4 separate regions of the Homo sapiens genome follow, and regions 1, 3 and 4 are each linked to region 2. Evidence: fine-mapped expression QTL. A gene starts in region 2. Each other region holds a variant in brackets. All regions are shown on one strand. Distances are from middle to middle. Region 1 overlaps PROK2 (prokineticin 2). Region 2 holds the start of GPR27 (G protein-coupled receptor 27). Region 3 has its middle 20 kb from the start of PROK2. Region 4 has its middle 10 kb from the start of PROK2.

What was found. PIP is the estimated chance that this variant, and not a neighbour inherited with it, causes the effect.
Region 1: its variant is fine-mapped to the expression of GPR27 in whole blood (TOPMed, PIP above 0.99).
Region 3: its variant is fine-mapped to the expression of GPR27 in whole blood (TOPMed, PIP above 0.99). The same link has a PIP of 0.9 or more in blood mononuclear cells.
Region 4: its variant is fine-mapped to the expression of GPR27 in whole blood (TOPMed, PIP 0.96).

The regions. Positions count from the first base shown.
Region 1 is chr3:71,774,818-71,779,941 of GRCh38, forward strand. The region is part of intron 2 of PROK2 (prokineticin 2); the gene reads right to left. Among named protein-coding and RNA genes, the nearest start is that of PROK2, 7.8 kb to the right of the region's middle. The variant C/T (reference allele first, on the strand shown) is at 2,897.
Region 2 is chr3:71,751,106-71,756,263 of GRCh38, forward strand. It overlaps GPR27 (G protein-coupled receptor 27), which reads left to right and starts at 2,750. Exons shown (of 1, transcript NM_018971.3): 1 at 2,750-5,158. The coding sequence starts at 2,945. The coding sequence ends at 4,072. It also overlaps a transcript of EIF4E3 not described here.
Region 3 is chr3:71,802,767-71,807,924 of GRCh38, forward strand. No RefSeq gene overlaps it. Among named protein-coding and RNA genes, the nearest start is that of PROK2, 20 kb to the left of the region's middle. The variant C/T (reference allele first, on the strand shown) is at 2,670.
Region 4 is chr3:71,792,964-71,798,121 of GRCh38, forward strand. No RefSeq gene overlaps it. Among named protein-coding and RNA genes, the nearest start is that of PROK2, 10 kb to the left of the region's middle. The variant T/C (reference allele first, on the strand shown) is at 2,115.

The DNA of each region.
Region 1 (5,124 bases), 24 kb after region 2:
ACTGGCTTAGACAGTTATAAGTGGATAGCATGAGAAGTGATCATCAACGACCTTTATAGCCCATTCTGACCCTGAGACCATAAGTTTCCTTTCTGCCAAGCCTAAAACTGCTGCATGGGCCAGTGATTCTCCACTAGGGACGATTGTGTCCCCAGGGGACATTTGGCAATGTCTGCAAATGTCTTCATTTGTCACAACTAAGGGCAGGGAGGGGGATGCTCTAGGCGTCTAGTGGGTAGAGGCCAAGGATGCTGCTAAACATTTTACAATGCACAGGACAACCCCTACGACAAAGAATTATCTGGCCCAAGACATCAATAGTGCTGAGGTTGAGAAAAACAAACACAGATAGCAATATCCAAGTAAAAGGAGCCTGAAGTGTGTCAGTGAAATACACCTATAATGAGCATGTTAAACTGTTACAAACAGAGATCACCAAATATGTTTCTTTCATTCACTCATTCAACAGATACTGAGTGCTACCTACATACCAGGCCCTATCTTAAGTGCCGAGCATACAATGATGAGCAACACAGGTGAGGCTGTGCATCGTGGAGCTTCCCTCTTGATCATACAAGACAGAACACCAGTAAAATTGTTTCAGCTGCTGGTGCTCACAGCCTTGTGCTTTCTGCATCATGACACTATGATCATTCTCTGGCCTGTCACATGGGGTGGGCAGTACCTTGGGCCCAGCAGAAAAGAAAAATCACATGGATTGTGCGCCATGGGTCAGGTCTCAGAAGGCATCATGTATGAATGTCATCCCAAACCTCAGCACCAGATTTTTGCTTTGTCTGAGATAGAGGTAAGTGGCTTCCTTTTGAGGTGAAGCAAAGGTCCTGGACTGAGGTTACTCAGCTAGGAGGGGAAAGTGCTCATAGTCAAACAGGGTCCTGCTTTCTTCCAGATTTTGCTCTCTTCTCAAACACCACCAAGCCCAGACTCCAGACTCTCTAAAGGGGGGACCATATCCATTTTACTCATGAGCATATAGCTCTTAGCCTGGTACACAGAAAACACTCAGGAGATATTTGCTATGTGCCAATCAAATGCCCTGCAATGCCCCACAGAGTCTAGGAACTCCCCGAAGGGCAGAAGATGACCAACTCAGATCCCAAGGCTCCCCTCACTGCCCTGCCCAGCTCCGAGCAGGCAAAACGTAACTCACACCACCAAACTCAGAGATGGACTCACCATGAAGCCCAAGAGGCCGAAGCCCCTCTCATGTATAGGCCTCTAATCCAGGACCTAGGAGGGACCCTGGTAGTGTGTTCACAAGGTCATCTGTTTTTGTGAAACTTAAAAAAAATCTTTGTATTATTTCTTTAAATCAAGGACACCAAGACTGTATGAACATCAATCTGGATCTGCCTTGACTGACCCTAACATAATGATTACACTGAACTGCAGGGTCCTTAATACTTAGGTGCTTTTTTCTCATTCAAACCCAGTTCACTCAGTTCTGTGAGCTCCTAACGACAAAAACCATGATTCCTTTTCTCTTTCTTTTCTCTCTTCTTTTCTTTTTTTCTTTTCGCTTTTCATTTTTTTTTTTTTTTTTTTTTTTTTTGAGACAGAGTCTTGCTCTGTTGTTGTGCCCAGACTGGAGTGCAATGGCATGATCTCAGCTCACTGTAGCCTCAGCCTCCCAGGTTCAAGTGATGCTCCCACCTCAGCCTTCCACGTAGCTGGGACTACAGGCATGTGCCACCATGCCCAGCTAATTTTTGTATTTTTAGTCGAGACAGGGTTTTGCCATGTTGCCCAGGCTGGTCTTGAACTCCTGGCCTCGAGTGATCTGCCCATCTTGGCCTCCCAAAGTGTTGGGATTACAGACGTGAGTCACTGTGCCTGGCCAAAAACCATGATTTCTGATATTATACACTCGGTAGATGCTTGTCCGTTTCTTGACTGGCCCACTCACTTCTAGATCTACAGATACTGTGTGACAAAGCTAACAGGCGTCTCATAATCACAAATGCAAGAGAAAGTGCTTACAGAAGATGCACACTGGAACCACTTAGTCCAAACTTCATGGTTTACTTTAGAATCAACCAACACTTAATGCAAAGTTTCCAATAGCCTAGAATTCCAAACAGCAAATTCTAGAAGTTACCGAGGCAGAACATCCAGCACTTTGAGAAAGCATGACTTTTACTCTTTTGCAGCACTTTTAAAGAGAAATTAGCACTTATAAAAGGGCAACATGAGGGATCCTTATAGTGATGGAAATGTTTTGTGTCTTAACTGTATCAACGTCAATATCCTGCTTGGAATATTGTACTATAGTTTTGCAAGATGTCACCATTGGGAGAAACTGGGCAAAGCGCATATAGTACCAAAGTTGAGAAACCTGTATTAGACTAAAGCCTATTTCTGTCTTGTAAGTCTTTTTGCTGAACTGAACCTATAAACACTGCTATGATGCTATCCCAAGAAATAATCATAGACAGTAGCTCTTGACATTGTGATAGGAAAGATGAGAAAATCAGCATATTATGCTTTCTTCCCCATCTTTTGCTAAATTTCTAGTTGCATTAGTTATATTTTAGTATTTTAAAATTTTTTTACTTTAAAAAATATGTAAAAATTTTAATGACTTCATATTCTGAAATTATGTTTACAATGTTTCCTCATAGGTTGGTTCTAAAGTAGAAACCACTAATAATTTTTTAAATATCAAGTTAAAAAAATAAAACAAGTACCAGGTTTTTATTTGAATTTTTTTCCTTCAGAAAAGGAAGGAAAGTGAAGTTTTTAAAAAAACCTGGTGCTAAAAATGTTCACATAAAAAGCGCAGGAAAATTTAAAAACAAGATTGTTTGAAGGAAACATAGTTGTTTAAACTGAAAAAATTCAGAATACAATAAGCAATAAAGATTAAAGTATTAAT[C/T]ACATAATTATTGAATACTAAAAAGTGTTCAAAGCTTTCAAAGCTAAACATTAGTCAAAATGGGAAGGAAATGGCTAATCTTCTATGTAAACTTTGGAAAGTTACCGGCATTAATAGAAACCTTGTTGTTTTGTCTTTTTTTTTTTTTAAACAGAAAGTTTCTTCTAAAGGCATGATTCAGTTAAGTCATTCTTAAGTGTTAAAAAATTGTGAAAAATGTGCCTGTAATCCCAACACTTTGGGAGGCCGAGGCAGGCAGATCACGAGGTCAGGAGATCAAGACCATCCTGGCTAACAAGGTGAAACCCCGTCTCTACGAAAAATACCAAAAACATTAGCCGGGCGTGGTTGTGGGCGCCTGTAGTCCCAGCTACTTGAGAGGCTGAGGCAGGAGAATGGCGTGAACCCGGGAGGCGGAGCTTGCAGTGAGCCGAGATCACACCACTGCACTCCAGCCTGGGTGACAAAGCGAGACTCTGTCTCAAAAAAATAAATAAATAAAATAAAATAAAATAAAATAAAAAATTTGAGAAAAATGAATACCTGTTAAAACTATTATTTGCTTTAAAATGTATTTAGAAAATATGCATACTATGCTTCCTAGGTGAACTCATATATCTCACATATTTTATTCTATCTTAAAATTATCAAACATAAAGTTCAAAACTATACAATTATAAAACAATAGCCTGTCAGGGACTGTAAACTGTACAAGTTAATTGGTACATGTTAAATAAAACAGCAAACTGAACTCGGTAGCTATAAACTCCTATCTATGGTTCTCAGTTTCAGTCATCAAATACTGTTCACTTGACCCAAATAAACGGATTTTCGGTGGCTAATGACTAAGCTGAAACAAAATGAAAAAAAAAATTCTATATAGGGTCTACATTTTTACTATCTACTAATGAGTCATTAAACTTCAGAGCATAATTGAATACTGTACATAATGTTCATCAGTATGTATTGAGGAAAGACTTTTTTCTTGAGTTGTTTTGAACAGACCATACAGCTGAGAGATATTCTGGAAGAAACTAGATCTTTTTCTACAATAGGTAAATTTCATCTGGAACAAGTACAACTCTAGGATCTTCTCTTAAAATAGGTCATCAAAATAACCTTTGAAAATGTATTTGAAGATAAAAAAGCAACCAATATGAAAAGTTAGAAAATAAAATTCCAGAAATACATTTCAAGTGAACATCTGAAAACCATACTCTATTATTTAAAGATTTCATTATTGGATCCATGATAAAAACAGAACCAAAGAGATGTAGCCAGGCTTATGCAAGAAGACTGCATTTGTTTACTTTCAAAATTAATCTTGGACTAAACCTGAAATTGAAGTTATCTAGGAACTAGGGAAATAGAATTCGGTTCTCTTTTAAATATTGCAGAGGATTGGAACACTCATCAAAACTATCGGACGACACAAATTCCCATTCTGAACTGTTATCACTCATTCCAGTGATCATTTTGTCTCTGTTATCCAAACAAACCAGTTTTGGTTAATTGGACTACAAAGTGTTCAAATTAAACCCAACGACTGCTTTCGCGGAGGCAGAAGCGTGTAATGATTAAGACCACATAAACAACAGAGTGTCACAAAGAATGAAGTTGAGTGTCTCTTGTTTACTCACAGCCTGTGTTGCTGAACCCCTCTGGGGCTTAATGTTGTATACAGGCTTGCTGTATTAAGTAAGAAGTACATATACAACATTTAATATAGAGGATCTGGTACATCACAGTATTTAACAAGGTGCAATTATGATTGTTATTAACACAAACATAGTTCCATGGGATATGTCACTTTTCCCTTGTTTCAGTAAACAGGCTATGTGATTCTAGCATCTAGGGCATGTGAAGCTGTACTAATACTGCATGAAAACAACACAATTTTTCTTTTTCCAGACAGAGTCTTGCTCTGTCACCCAGGCTGGAGTATAGTGGCAAGATCACGCTCACTGCAGCCTGAAACTCCTGGATTCTACTGATCCCCTCCCCCACCTCAGCCTTCCTGGTAATTAGGACTACAGGTGTGTGCCACCATGCCCAGCTAATTTTTAAAAATTTTTCTATAGAGACGGGGTCTCACTATGTTGCCCAGGCTGGTCTCAAATTCCTGGGCTCAAGCAAACTGCCTGCCTCAGACTCCCAAATTGCTGGGATTACAGTGTGAGCCACTATGCCCAGCCAAAAACAACGTAATTCTTAAAGGAGAAAGTTAA
Region 2 (5,158 bases):
GCCTGTGGTCCCAGCTACTCAGGAGGCTGAGATAGGAGGACGGCCTGAGCCTGGGAGGTTGAGGCTGCAGTGAGCCATGATGATGCCACTGACTCCAGCCTAGGTGACAGAGTGAGACCCTGTTTCAAAATAAATAAAGTCAGACTTCCAGCTCTTACACTTACTTGAAAGTAAGTGTAAAGTAAGTGTAAGTGGTGAAAGCGTGAACAAATTAACCCTTCTGCCTCCTCTGCAAAATGAAGACAGTAACAGCACATACCACATCTGGCCATTACAATGATTACATTAAATAACACATGTCGAGAATTTAGCACAATGCTTGGCATACGGCAAGTGCTCAGTAAAAGGTGGCTGCCATTAGTATTACCATAAAGCAACCAGAGTTGGTGAATTTGTGTGGGTTATTAAGAAGGCATTCCCTCCTCTGGGCAGAGGCAGCCCAAGCGCTAAGGGCCACAGCAAGGCAGGATCGAATTCTCTACAGCCATGGGTCTAACTTTAAACAAAGAAATAAGAAACCATTTCCTACCCTCCCTTGCTCAAGTGCTCACTCTCAATTGATAGCCAATGATATGTTTAAGTGTTTGTTTATAATGTAGGGCTTCTAGAAAGCTCTTCCTACTTAGATGGCTGGAATATTGCTGCTCTTTTCCCTTTTCTTCTTTCTGCCTGGAATGAAGAAATGATGGCTGGGGCGTCGGCAGCCTACTGTGATCATGAGGGAAGGGCTAAAAGATTTTCAGAGATTCAGTCCTTGAGCCAATAAATCAATGTCAGCAACTACTGACCTCCAAACTTCTTCTTTCACGAGGAAAATAAACTCATGTACACGTTTTTTGCTACTAGTATCAAACTGCAATTCCTAACCCATACACCCTCCAAAATCTATTTTCTATCAACATACATTTACAGATGTGCCTGGTCAGCCACTTGCTGCTGGCCACTTAGGAGTCCCAAGTCAGGTGCTCAATAGTTGATTTTCTTGAAAAATCACTTAGATTTTTAAAAAAATATCCAAACTGTCCCCAAGGGCCTTACTATTCAAAGTAAGGTCAGCAGACCAACAGCATTAGTCTCACCCCGGAGCTTGTTAGAAATGCAGAACCTCCGGCCCCATTCCAGAACTACTAAATCAGAATCTTCATTTTAACAGGGTCCCCAGTGATTTCTGCACATAGTGAAGTTTGAGGCTCTGGACTAGGTTTACCGGCTCTGCTCTGTCATCCCTCCTCAACACTGCTGCCAGAATAATGTTCCTGGAGCACACCTAGTCATGTCGCTCCCCTTCTCAAAAGATTTCAAGGGCTCCTGACTGCCTGCAGACTAAAGTTTCGACTTCTTAGCCTGATCATTAAGGCCCTCTATGATCTTGCACTATCCTGAAAATGCCCATCAAGGTGCCTGCCTTGCATGTAATCAGTAGGCAACAAATAATTTTCTGCACAGAAGAAAAAACAAATGAGTGTGGGTGAGAAACAATGCGTTGCTTAATTCTGGCTTTACCATGCTAAGCACTGGGGATGCAGTGGTACCAAAAACCAGGCATGATCCCTTGCCTTCAAAGAGCTTAGAGCCTAGTTAGAAGAGCATGATTTTTAAAAAGAAATGAAAGTATATAATGACAAATTATAAGTGCTAAGAAGGAAATGACTAGAGGGCAGGGATACAGAGTAAAACAGACGGGTTAGAAGGAGGCCCTACGGAGAGGGAGCCTGTTGTGGGGCTGGTCCAGGCAGAGGTACCAGCACATGCAAGGTCCTGCGAGACAAATGCGGTGTGTCTGAGAATCATAACAGGGGCTGCCCTTTCAGGCTTACCCAGAAAATAGATATCCTGGGAGGAAGGTGGCATAGGGTTCACCTTCCAAGTCACTTAAAGATGAAATGCTGCATTTCTTTTCCCTGATATAGGTCCTTCACCGGGATCACGGATGAGTTAGCGAGCAGGGGATGCTGCGGAGTCGCTGTGAGTCCAGCACTGGAAATCAGACCAAGCGAAATTTGAATCCCAGCTCCGCTACTTCCCGGCTCTCAACTCCCTTGACCTCCAAGCCTCTGCTTCCTGAGGTATAAAGTGGGATTAAGGATGGCAACAACTTCGTGATTACTGTTGAGGGAGATAATGCTTGCCAAGCTCCCCAGCACACTGCCACCCACATCAGTGCGCACCTGAGTATCAGCGGTTTTAGGATTACGATGACTATTACTATCGTAAATTACTCCCAGCTTTCGGGCAGAAGGCTCATTCCAGATATTCCTGTCCCCTCTGAGGCCTCCCGACCCTGCCAGCCCAGGCAACCTCCCCCGCGCACGGCCACCGTGACCCCAGCGCGGGCGCCGCCGCCGGACCCCCGTTACCTGGGGCCAAACGCGACTTGTCGCCACCTTGCGTCCTGGGCCCTGCCTCCCTCCCGGCCGCCTCCCGACCCCGCGGCTGCTGCGGAGGCGCCCCCAGCCCAGCCGGGCCCAGGCGGTGCGGGATGCCTCGGCGGGGCTGGCGGCGGCGGCCGCGCTGCGCGCTCCGGCGGAGGGGAGGGGGCTCCGCGGCGGCGGCGGCGGCGGCGGCAGCGGCGGCAGCGGCGGCGGCGGGCCCGGCGGGGGGCAGAGCCAAGAGGCGCGGCGGCAGCAGCGGAGGAGTAGGAGGAGACGGAGGAGGATGCGGGGGGCTGCGGACGGTGGCGAGGCCCTGTCCGCAGTGAAGCCCGCGGCGCCTAGGGCGCAGGGAGTGGCCGCCTCCTCCTGCGCGCACCATTCCTGAGATGGCGGCGGCGGCACAGCGGCGGCTCGGGGAGCCCAGGAGGGGCCGGCCGGGAGCGGGCTGAGCCCCGCAGGACGGGGAGCTCGCCCAGGGCCGGCGGAGCGGCGGAGCTCGGGCCGGGCGGCCTGCGGGAGCGGCGAGGCAGGGGACGGCCCCGGGGCGGAGCGCACGGCCTGGTGAGGCCGCGATGGCGAACGCGAGCGAGCCGGGTGGCAGCGGCGGCGGCGAGGCGGCCGCCCTGGGCCTCAAGCTGGCCACGCTCAGCCTGCTGCTGTGCGTGAGCCTAGCGGGCAACGTGCTGTTCGCGCTGCTGATCGTGCGGGAGCGCAGCCTGCACCGCGCCCCGTACTACCTGCTGCTCGACCTGTGCCTGGCCGACGGGCTGCGCGCGCTCGCCTGCCTCCCGGCCGTCATGCTGGCGGCGCGGCGTGCGGCGGCCGCGGCGGGGGCGCCGCCGGGCGCGCTGGGCTGCAAGCTGCTCGCCTTCCTGGCCGCGCTCTTCTGCTTCCACGCCGCCTTCCTGCTGCTGGGCGTGGGCGTCACCCGCTACCTGGCCATCGCGCACCACCGCTTCTATGCAGAGCGCCTGGCCGGCTGGCCGTGCGCCGCCATGCTGGTGTGCGCCGCCTGGGCGCTGGCGCTGGCCGCGGCCTTCCCGCCAGTGCTGGACGGCGGTGGCGACGACGAGGACGCGCCGTGCGCCCTGGAGCAGCGGCCCGACGGCGCCCCCGGCGCGCTGGGCTTCCTGCTGCTGCTGGCCGTGGTGGTGGGCGCCACGCACCTCGTCTACCTCCGCCTGCTCTTCTTCATCCACGACCGCCGCAAGATGCGGCCCGCGCGCCTGGTGCCCGCCGTCAGCCACGACTGGACCTTCCACGGCCCGGGCGCCACCGGCCAGGCGGCCGCCAACTGGACGGCGGGCTTCGGCCGCGGGCCCACGCCGCCCGCGCTTGTGGGCATCCGGCCCGCAGGGCCGGGCCGCGGCGCGCGCCGCCTCCTCGTGCTGGAAGAATTCAAGACGGAGAAGAGGCTGTGCAAGATGTTCTACGCCGTCACGCTGCTCTTCCTGCTCCTCTGGGGGCCCTACGTCGTGGCCAGCTACCTGCGGGTCCTGGTGCGGCCCGGCGCCGTCCCCCAGGCCTACCTGACGGCCTCCGTGTGGCTGACCTTCGCGCAGGCCGGCATCAACCCCGTCGTGTGCTTCCTCTTCAACAGGGAGCTGAGGGACTGCTTCAGGGCCCAGTTCCCCTGCTGCCAGAGCCCCCGGACCACCCAGGCGACCCATCCCTGCGACCTGAAAGGCATTGGTTTATGAGGGAGGCCCCGCCACATAGACCCCCAACCCAGCCTTTCCCTTTGGCTCGGACGGTGACGTTGTATCTTTTCCTTCTGGCCCCTGTTTAATTTTCTAAGCTGCCTTCAAAATGACTCGAAGTGGACAGACACTTGGATTGTACTGACTCCTTTGGGGGTGGGGTGGGTGAGGAGTAGGATGCTCAGCCCACTCCAGCTCCGCACATTCGTCCTCCTAACTCGACTTTCTTCCTGACAATAGGCCCTGCAGTCTTTTTGTAGCGGTACTGACGTCTTTTATTCCATGTGTGGTTCCTTTTTTTCTTTTTCTATAAAGGCTGTACTAATTTTCTTCATGCAACGTTTCCTAAAGACCATGGCCAGTTTTCTACAGAAGCTATTTTTGACAACCTCAAGTGGCATTACATTTTGCAGTGAAGTAGAGGAACCTAGGGGGACTTCTTCACAAGTTAGATTTCTTGAGGATCTTCTGTTGGAAGCAGGAGAAAGTGGGGGGTGGGGGGAAGTTGTCCGAAATGCCCTCTGAATTGCCGGCTGCAGGGTCCTTGTGCTGCGCTGGTTCTTTGAAAGTCTCAGTGTTGATATTGAACTTAAAGAGCAGAGATGGAGATCAGTAGCAAGGCAGTCATTTTTTTAAAGCAGTAAGTAACAAGTAAGATTTGGTTCCCGGTTTACTTTCTGCTGCTAAAAACCACGTCAGTGACAACTGCTCTCTGTATTATAGCAATCTTGAATGGAAACATTTCTGTCAAGTTGTAAGTTTTAAAAGAGTAAAGTGTTTTGGTTAGTAATGATGTGGAGAAAAATACAGTATTGCATGTGTTCGTGTGTATAGATTGTGGTTCGAGGATTGGGAGGGCTCTGAGAAGCAGAGTACTACATCAAAATTGTTTTAAGTATTTTTTGCCAATAAAAAATTAATTTTATGGAAATGGCTTGTGCTTTGAGAAGCCCAGTTTTATTCTGTCTTATGAAACTAATTTCCACTTTGAAAATTGTTCTTCTGTTGTTTATGGTATAAATGAATGGAATATAATGATATCCTCCTTCTAGGAAACAAAGCATTTCCTTAAAATGTTTGCTAGGT
Region 3 (5,158 bases), 52 kb after region 2:
GGGGCACCATGGCTGCTCCATCACCAGCACGGGGCCTATGTCTAGTTGGGGAGTCAGGGGAAGGGGAAAGGTTAGAGTGCTTGCAGGTTGAGAATGTCTGCCTCTTCCCAAATAGGTACTTACAAAATTGCACTTTATTTATTTCCTATGCTGCATTTATTGCATTTGATAATGGCAGATATAATGGTTAATTTTATGTGTCAAGCTGACTGGGAGAAGGGATGCCCAGATAGCTGGTAAAACATTATTATTATTATTATTTAAAGGCAGAGTCTCCCTCTGTCACCCAGGCTGGAGTGCTGTGGTGTGATCTCAGCTCACTGCGACCTCCACCTCCTAGGTTCAAACGATTCTCATCCCTCAGCCTCCTAAGTAGCTGGGATAACAGGCATCAGCCATCATGCCCAGCTACTTTTTTTGTATTTTTAGTAGAGATGGGGTTTCACCATGTTGGCCAGGCTGGTCTCAAACTCCTGACCTCAAGTGACCCACCTGCCTCGGCCTCCCAAAGTGCTAGGATTACAGGCGTGAGTGCCTAGCCCCTGACTATTACCATCTTTTAGGGACCTTGTAGCAGCCACTGCTGATGCTCAGCTCAGAAGCCCTCACATTCCTTTACCATTTCCATGCTCTCCTACTTTGGCTGCATTGTTCTTTTGCTATGTCAGTGGGACCTGCAACAGAACTGCTCTCAGGCTCCCAGAGAGGCCCTGCTCTGCTTGTGCAGAGGGCCAGAAATGCCGGAGTGCTTTTTTCTGCTTGGGGTAGCCAGTAGCCAAGGACCTGCTAACCCAGCAGAATGAAAGCCCAGCTCCTTTATTCTGACTCAGGAAAAACCCTTAGATGCAGTTGACTCTCCAGAGCTCCCTGCAGGATCAGGTGGAGTCTGGCCTTTGGTTTGAGATCGCCACTCTGGTGGGCTTCTTCCTCTTGCTTTGCCGTGTTCCCCTACTCTTACTTTGCCCAGTGTTCCCAGGAGACCCTGCCTTCATAAATCATTTTCACAAAAATCTTTATCTCTGAGTCTGCTTCCGGGGACCAGACTATGCCTTTTTAATTCACCCAGTGCCTAGCATAGCACCTGACACATAGTGGGAGTTTGAAAACTTCTTCAAGACTGGTTGAAAAATGCATAATATTAAACCCAATTAAACAAACAGTCCTGTTGGAAAGACACTTTTGAAGCCAGTCAAATTCAGATGATTCAGTAACAATTAGTAACATAGGTTTGATTCTTTTTATTTTTTTATAAGACAGAGTCTCCCCCTGACGCCCAGGCTGGGGTGCAGTGGAGTGATCTTGGCTCATTACAATCTCCATCTCCTGGGTTCAAGCAATTCTCCTACCTCAGTCTCCTGAGTAGCTGGGATTACAGGCGTGCACCACCATGCCTGGCTAATTTTTTAATATTTTTAGTAGAGACAGGGTTTCACCATGTTGGTCAGCCTCGTCTCAAACTCCTGACCTCAATGATCCACCTGTCTTGGCCTCCCAAAGTGCTGGGATTTACAGGCGCGAGCTGCCGTGCCCAGCCTTACATAGGTTTGATTCTATCTAGCAGAACTCAAATTCAAAATAACCTGGTGAAAGTTGAATACTTAAATTTAAGGTCACAGATCACTACAATATGACAGGGACCAGGCATTTTTAGTGTGTACAATTCTTCTATCAGCTTAGGTTCCTGCTCAGAAATCTGAAAGTCTCGCCCCACTACATGCCACAAACCGTTTTTTTTCCTTTTTTTCTTTTCTTTTCTTTTTTTTTTTTTTGGAGACGCAGTTTCACTCTTGTTGCCCAGGCTAGAGTGCATTGGCATAATCTCGGCTCACTGCAACCTCCATCTCCCAGTTTCAAGCAATTCTCCTGCCTCAGCCTCCCGAGTAGCTGGGATTACAGGTGTGCAGCACCACACCTGGCTGATTTTTGTATTTTTTGTAGAGATGAGGTTTTGCCATGTTGGCCAGGCTGGTCTCGAACTCCTTACCTCAGGTGATTCACCTGCCTTGGCCTCCCAAAGTGCTGGGATTATGGGTGTGAGCCACCAAGCCCAGCCAAACCCTTATTTTTTTTAAGGAGGTTGTGCACACTGGTTCCCCAGAAGCAAAGCATCAGGTAATGTTAACTTCGGTTATTGCAAATGATGGCTGGAGGTCTGGGGAGAGGGATTGATCATACTGGGCACCTGCATCTCCTGTGCAAATCTCTCCTGGGGCCTCAATGCTTACGCAGTTTGCTCCATACACCCTTGGTTTGAGTGGACCCTCCCCTGGCTCACAGGCTGCCTTTCATTGTTCTGGGTGCTCTCAAGCAGTGATGCCACTGTGGGGCATGGTGCCTGACCCCTAGAGCAATGCCTCCTCCAGGCCCCAGAGAGCTCTCCCCTGAAAAGTCAAGGCTTGAAAGAAGGAAGCCTGCCATTGGCTGAGAACTGGAATTATTACAACCCCCAATGCTGGAGGTGGGACTTGCGGGAGGTGATTGGATCATGAGGGCGGGTTTCTCATGAATGGTTTAGTACCATCCCCCCTTGGTACAGTATAGCGAGTGAGTTCTCACAAGATCTGGTTGTTTAAAGCTGTGTGGCACCTCCCCCATTTCTCTCTTCCTCCTGGGGTGGCCATGTAACATGTGCCTGCTTCCCCTTCACATTCTGCCATGATTGTACATTT[C/T]CTGAGGCCACCCCAAAAGCAGAAGCCAGTATGCTTCCTGTAAAGCCTGAGGAATCATGAACCAATTAAACCTCTTTTCTTTATAAATTACCCAGTCTCAGGTATTTCTTTATAGTAGTGCAAGAACAGACTAATACACCCATTCTTGACTTTGGAGTTAGATTAGACTTCTGAAGTTCAAATCTCGACTCTGCTACATTCAAGCTGTGTAACTTTGGGCAATTCACTCAATCCCTCTCAGCCACAGTTTCCTATTTCTCGAATGTAGTTTCCATGAGGGACTGGGTCTTGGTCTTTTCCTGCTGTTGCTATATTCCCAGTGACAAGACAGTGCCTGAAGTATGGTAGGGGCTTCATAAGTATTTTCTGAGGAAATAAATAAGGGTATTTGTGAAGGCTGATGGAAATGATGGGTAGTATCTGGCACAAAGCAATCACTTAATAGTATCTGAGTGACTATCTGGCACAAAGCCAGATCTGGCACAAAGCAATCACTCAATAAATGCTAGCTATAAATATATAAAATATACATATGAAGATGTAATTTTATTTTATTTCTTATATCTGGTAACATAGTTTCTAACCACAATGTAATGTGTTAGAATTCATCCTCTCTCATGCCTGTAATCCCAGCACTTTGTGAAGCTGAGGCGGAAGGACTGTTTGAGCCCAGAAGTCGGAGACTGCAGTAAGCTGTCATCATGCCACAGCACTCTTGCCTGGGCAACAGAGTGAGATCCTTTTTCTAAAAACTAACAAAACAAAACAATTATTTCCAAAAATTTAAAACTTAAAAAAAATTAAAAATTGAGAAGTTTTTTAAAATATGAAAAAAGAGGCATCTCCATATTTTCTGAGAGCAATAGTACATTGGTGAACACTGATTGCCCCGCATCCATTCACTTGTGTCTTTCTTCCTAACACAACTCCGATTCTGACCAAGTATAGCTTAGAAGAATGTGACCCGAGACTCTAGAAGTAAATCTTTTTTTTTTTTTTTGAGACAGAGTTTCACTCTGTCGCCAGGCTGGAGTGCAGCGGCACAATCTCGGCTCACTGCAACCTCTGCCTCCCCGGTTCAAGCAATTCTCCTGCCTCAGCCTCCCAAGTAGCTGGGACTATAGGCACCCACCACCATGCCCGGCTAATTTTTTGTATTTTTAGTGAGACGGGGTTTCACCATGTTGGCCAGGATGGTCTCGATGTCCTGACCTCGTGATCTGCCCACCTCGGCCTCCCAAAGTGCTGAGATTACAGGCGTGAGCCACCGCGCCAGGCCAGGAGTGAATCTTAAGGAGGCTATTGGCATGTGCCATTCCCCCATCACCTGCCTGCATGACTCATTGGTCCTGTGACTAGGACTGGTTCAATCAAAATGAAGGAAACATTTATATTACACACTTGGAGATGTGGTTTTTCCATTTTTGACCAGGTAGTTGAGAACAAAGAAGTATGTAGCTCCAGTTGCCACTGACAACTGTCTTGTTATTATGAGGCACTTGGAAATGAGGCTTACAACATCATGAGAAAGACGGAGAGAGTCAGTTATCTGACGACATCTTTCAGCTACTGATGGTGCCACTCCTTCCAGTTAGGTAAGATAATACATTTCCTTACTGTCTTATTTTTTATTTATTTATTTTTGAGACAAGGTCTTGCTCTGTTGCCCAGGCTGGAGTGCAGTCGTGTGATCTGGGCTCACTGCAGCCTTGACCTCCCAGGATCAAGTGATCCTCCCACCTTAGCCTCCTGAGTAGCTGGGACTACAGACGTGTGCCACCACGTCTGGCTAATTTTTGAAGTGTTTTATAGAGATGGGGTTTCACCATGTTGCCCATGCTGGTCTCAAACTCCTGGCCTCAAGCAACCCTCCCTCCTCGGCCTCCAAAAGTGCTGGGATTATAGGCATGAGCCACTGAGCCCAGCCATTTCATTATTATTATTATTATTATTATTATTATTATTATTATTATTATTATTAAGACAGGGTCTCATTTTGTTGCCTAGGCTAGAGTGTAGTGGCAGCAAGAGGGCTCACTGAAGCCTCAACCTCCCAGGCTGAAATAAGCCTCCTGTCTCAGCCCCTCATGTAGCTGGGACTACAGGCATGCGCCACTACACCTGGCTAATTTTTGTACTTTTTTAACAGATAGGATTTCACTATGTTGCCTAGGCTGGTCTCCAACTCCTGAATTGAAGCCACCCACCTGCCTCGGTCTCCCAAAGTACTGTGATTATAGGCTTGAGCCACCATGCCCAGCCACCTTATTTTTTATGTCATTTAGGATGGGTTTTTCCAAGCCTTACAGCCAGAAATATACTACCTAGTGGGCTGCAAAATTATGTAGGAGATGAAACTAAAAATGTCTTCTTCGAATAATAATAGTAATGGTAGCCAATGCCTTCTTCAGCACAGTGTCAAAACATATGCCAAGCCCTTCAGCTATATTAGCTATTTACTCTCTCAACAATCCTATGAGGTGGAGACT
Region 4 (5,158 bases), 42 kb after region 2:
TTTGGTCTATTCAAGTGATAATGTAAAATAAAGTTTACCTATTTTTAAATAGTTGAAATATTAATTCAAGAGAAAGACTTTTTAAAAAAAAATTAGTATAAAATGCGTTTGAAATAATATGAGGGATCAGGATGAACATTTGGTTCTAAAAGATTTAGGTTTTATTCATTACAATGTTGACTGTATTTAATATCTATTTTTAGCATTGAAGGTGAGCCTTAAGGCTATGTATCATGTACTTCATTAAAAGGAAGAGATTGTTATGCAAATCGGTAGCATATTTGTTAACTTTCCAGAGAGAAAGTCTCATGCAGAAAATAACTTTCTTGGCCGGGTGCGGTGGCTCACACCTGTAATCCCAGCACTTTGGGAGGCCAAGGCGGGTGGATCACCTGAGGTTAGGAGTTTGAAACCAGCTCGGCCAACATGGTGAAGCCCTGTCTCTACTAAAAACAGAAGAAAATTAGCCGAGTGTGGTGGCAGGTGCCTGTAATCCCAGCTACTTGGGAGGCTGAGGTAGGAAAATCGCTTGAACCTGGGAGGCAAAGGTTGCAGTGAGTGGAGATCTTGCCACTGCACTCCAGCCTGGGCGACAGATGAGACTCTGTCCAAAAAAAAAAAAGAAAAGAATTTTCTTAAGAGGAAAAACCAGGGCTAGGTAATTACTTCTTTATTATTTTAGGTCAACATTTATTAGCTAGCCCACACAAATTTTATTTACTAATTTTTTTCTCCCCTAAATTTGAATTGTGTGTGTATATATATATGTATATATGTCTGTCTGTCTATCTATCTATCTATCTATCTATCTATCTATCTATCTATGTATCTATCTATCTATCTGTCTATATTTTTTTTTCCTGAGGGAAAGGACTTGGAAGAAATAATAAGACATCTGGGTATAGGAATTTATAGGCACAAACCAATTACAAAAATCTCCATTTCTAAATGTAAAGGCTGCCTCTTTCTATGCACTGCATATGGTAAGTACTCAATAAATCTCAATACATCTTATATAATACCTCCAGTTACCCTATGGGGTAGCTACCACCACAATTCCTATTTTACAAAGGGGGAAGTAAGATTTGCAGAGATTAACTGTGTCATACAGAATCACAGTAACTTCGAAATAGTAGAGCTGGGTTTCCACCCAGTTAGGTCTTATGCCAAATACTTAACTATTACAGCTTCTCCTTGAATTTATATGCTTTACTTAAATATTGCCATAAAAAATTTAGATAGCCAATAACCAAAAGGAAGAAACAATGACTATGATGTGAATTTTCCTCAAACTTATCTTAAAACCTGCCTGTTTCCCTCCCTCTCACCTCTTTCTCTCTGTTGCTTTCTCTCTCTTTCTTCTCTGTCTCTTTTTACAACTCAGAGATCAAGATTTAAAAACAAAATGGCAGAGAACAGGTACAATTCTACACATGTGACCTTTTGTCTGGAGGTATGTTTACCCTCAGAGGAATCCCCCGAAGAAGTTCAGAAGAGATACTATTTTTGTGAGTGGTAAGAAAGTGGGCCATCCGTGTTTCTGCTCTGCAGGTTCATTTGTCAGCGTTCTAAGTGGGGACTGGGTGCCTTTGCTCTCATAAGGTGAGTTGTCTATCAAAGGAATCCTCCCTGCTTTTTTAGGTGGCAAGATCAATTAGAGTGAGCCTAACACTGGAGACTGAGGACTCTAGTACAGCATCTGCCAGGGAGTGTGTCCTCTTAGAAAAATTGTGATTTTTTTATGATTAGATAGAGACCTCTTAGGAGCCATAATTTGTATTAGCACATTAAAGACCCCGAGAGGTTCTGCAAAAGGAAACTAGTTGTACCAACTTGGTACAACTCAGCATTTCCAAAATATTTGGTTACAGAGCACTTTTTGCATGTGCCAGGGATAAAAGGCTAGGCAAATCTCAATCCCTTATCTTGACCACATCCAAGCCTTAACAAAAAACCCACTCATGTAGAGGAATTTAGAGGAATTGGTTACATTTTGAATGTGTAGCCAATCTTGAATGAACTCATTAATCAAATACAGAAAATGATGGGATAATCTAATTCATCTAACTTGCTTTACAAATGAGGAAACTGATAATCCGAAAGATTTAATCTCA[T/C]AGGAACCAGGTGACAGAGCAGGAAATAGGCCACTGGTCTCCTGCCTCGAAGTTCTAGTTTTTCCCAACCATACTGGCTCCTCTTTGAGGTGTGGGGACCCCTCTACAAAACAGTTATAAACACACTTTCCAAAACACAGGAGACTACTTTTAGGAAGGTCTCTTCCATATATATCAAGTCATTGTGATCACCTGTTCCACTGTCCTCACAGTTAGAAGTGGCCATGGAGTGTGTGGTTGCATCCTGGATCTCTATCCACTGAAGTCATTTATTTTTTTCACACAGTTTGGCAGAGTTTGGGTTTGCTAAATGTATACGTAAGTATTATCAACCTTTGGCTCACGAATTAGCAAAAAGGATAGCGCAGGTTTGAGCGGGAGGGGACTGGAAAATTAATTTTGGTAGGATAAGACTTCACCTAGAGAATCCTAAGTGGCAGATTGCTAACTCTTTTCATTTGTTTACTTCCAAAATGTTTTCGAGCTGATGGATGCAATTCGCCATAATGAAAGTATTTCCAAGCCCTAGCCAATGATCCATGGTAACTGTGCTTTCATGATCTTGTTACAGCATTCTCCCTTCCATTTTCTTATGTGTTTGTCTGTTTAATAGGCCCCCATCGTAATAGCTAGAGGTGGAGGAGTAGAGAGAGGGAGAGTGGTCAGGAGGTGAGTTTACTGGGGTGCTTCAGATAGAACTGTTTTCCTTGCTGAGAGAATGAGGTTCCAGAACTCAGCCTTGACTGTAAGTTATGATTTTCCTAAAGGCTGATGTAAACCCCCAAATCCTATCTCGGCATCAACCGATTCCGGTTAATCAGTTATTTTAAAATGAATCAATTGTTAGTCTGATTTGTAATTGATCTCTTTTACATCTAGTTTGTGTGAGCCAGTAGATTTCAAACTTTTTATTTTTGGGGTGGAACATCCAAGTTTTGATAAGAGTCCTGTCCAACAAAACACTCCCTGGCCAGGCGCAGTGGCTCACCTCTGTAATCCCAGCACTTTGGGAGGCCGAGGCGGGCAGATCACTTGAGGCCAGGAGTTCGAGACCAGCCTGGCCAACATGGCGAAACCCCGTCTCTACAAAAAATATGAAAATTAGCCAGGCATGGTGGTGGGTGCCTGTAATCCCAGCTACTTCGGGGGCTGAGGCAGGAGAATCACTTGAACCTGGGAAATGTAGGTTGCAGTGAGCTGAGATGGCACCGTTGCACTCCAGCATGGGCAACAGAGCAAGACTCTGTCTCAAAAACAACAACAACAACAACAAAACTGAACCAAAAACAAAACCAACTCTCTCTGATTTCCTTTCATTTGTGGTTCTTTCACATGTAGGAGAGGAGGAGCTGTGAAGGAAGAACACAGGCAATTTAATTCACCAGAGATATACCGCCTATCACTGCTATGTGCCTGCAGGCACTGTGCAATAGGTGCTGTGAGAATAGTGCAGTAGCTGCTCTGTACGATGCAAGTTGCTACCAGATGGTTCTTTTTAGAGCAGCAATTTCACCATTACCACATTCAAAGTCTAAACCTGATTTCCTAAACTGGCAGCTCAGCTCATTAAGTCTACACCCCTCCTGAAGAGAATTCATGGTTCTCCGTGACTGATTATTGAAAGTTTACTCTAATTATAATAAGCCATGACATCAAGTGAGCTCTTGAAGTATAAAATGTACAACTACCCTGCAGTAGTCTTTATATTTTGAGCACTATTTTTATCTTTCTCAAACATTAAGATAAATTTAATAAGCATTTGAGCAAATTTTGGCTTTAGCAATGCATCATCAGAATTTGGGGGTTGTAGCCCATTATTCCCCCTTCCCCTTCCCAGGGAAAGTGCAGGTTTAACACACACTGAATCATCCGGGAGACATAGGCCGCAAATACAAACAGGCAGAAAAGCGTCTTGGTCTGGCGTTTGAGGTCTGCTTGTTAAAGTCTTTCCCATCCATTCATATTTAGAGAGTGCTACTCTGGAGTCAGATTTGGTAGAGTCCAATCCCAGCTCTGCCATCTACGGTCTATCTAGCCTTAGGAAAGATATTTAATTTCTCAGAGCTCCAGTCTTCTTCTCAATAAAATAGAGTGAATAATAATAATACCTACAGTGTAGGATTGTTGTGAGAATGAAACAAAAATATGTCTGACACAGTGTAAGAACCCATTAACACATTTGCCGTTATCAGAGGAAAAGGGTATTGTGCTAACGTCAATGTCCTGGTTTTGACAATGTACTCTAGTTATGTAAGATGCTGTTGTAGTGGAAACTATGGGAAAGGTACTCAGGAACTCTTTGTATAATTTTTGCAATGTTTTGTGAGTTTAAAATTATTTTAAAATTGAAAAAGGGATGTAGGGAAGAAAGAAAAAAGGGAAGTCCCAGGAGTACAACTTGGCAATGCTGACCACCATCAGGCCAGTGGAACTCCAGCCCAGGATGTGCCTGTCTGGCTCCCGGGACAGGCAGGTCCCTCTTGATGCTGGGCAATAGCACATTCAGAACACACAGACCACTGCCATTGGCCTGGCTCTGACTCACTGCAGCCGTTTGATTATACATGGACTTCTGGTGGCCTTGCCAGTGGGGAGAAGTCACGGGAGCCAGCGGCCTGAATGCCAATCCTTGGGCAGTGAAAGTAGTAAGGGTTTTCACGGTAAATCAATAGATTGACATTCTGATTCATGACCCAAATGGAGGAGACCTCTGGTGCTGACGAGTCAGGCTCTGAGTCTGCAAGGCTGAGAGAGACCCTGGATTATCGTCACTGGGTCAAGGTGAAGCCACCTTGTGAGGCCTCTTGGGAGACAGCCAGGAAGCCTTGCCCAGAGATGCCTCTCCTCTCCACCCCTCATATGAAGGGCTCTGTGCTTTTTAGGTTCTGGTTTTAATTACTCCCCAGCATAGCACAGTACAGCTCAATAGAACTTTCTGCAATGGTGGAAATACTCCATATCCATGTAGTCCCTAGCAGTACGGCTAGTCACAAGTGGCTGTGGAGCACTTGCAATGTGGCTAGTGCAACTAAGGAATGAAATTT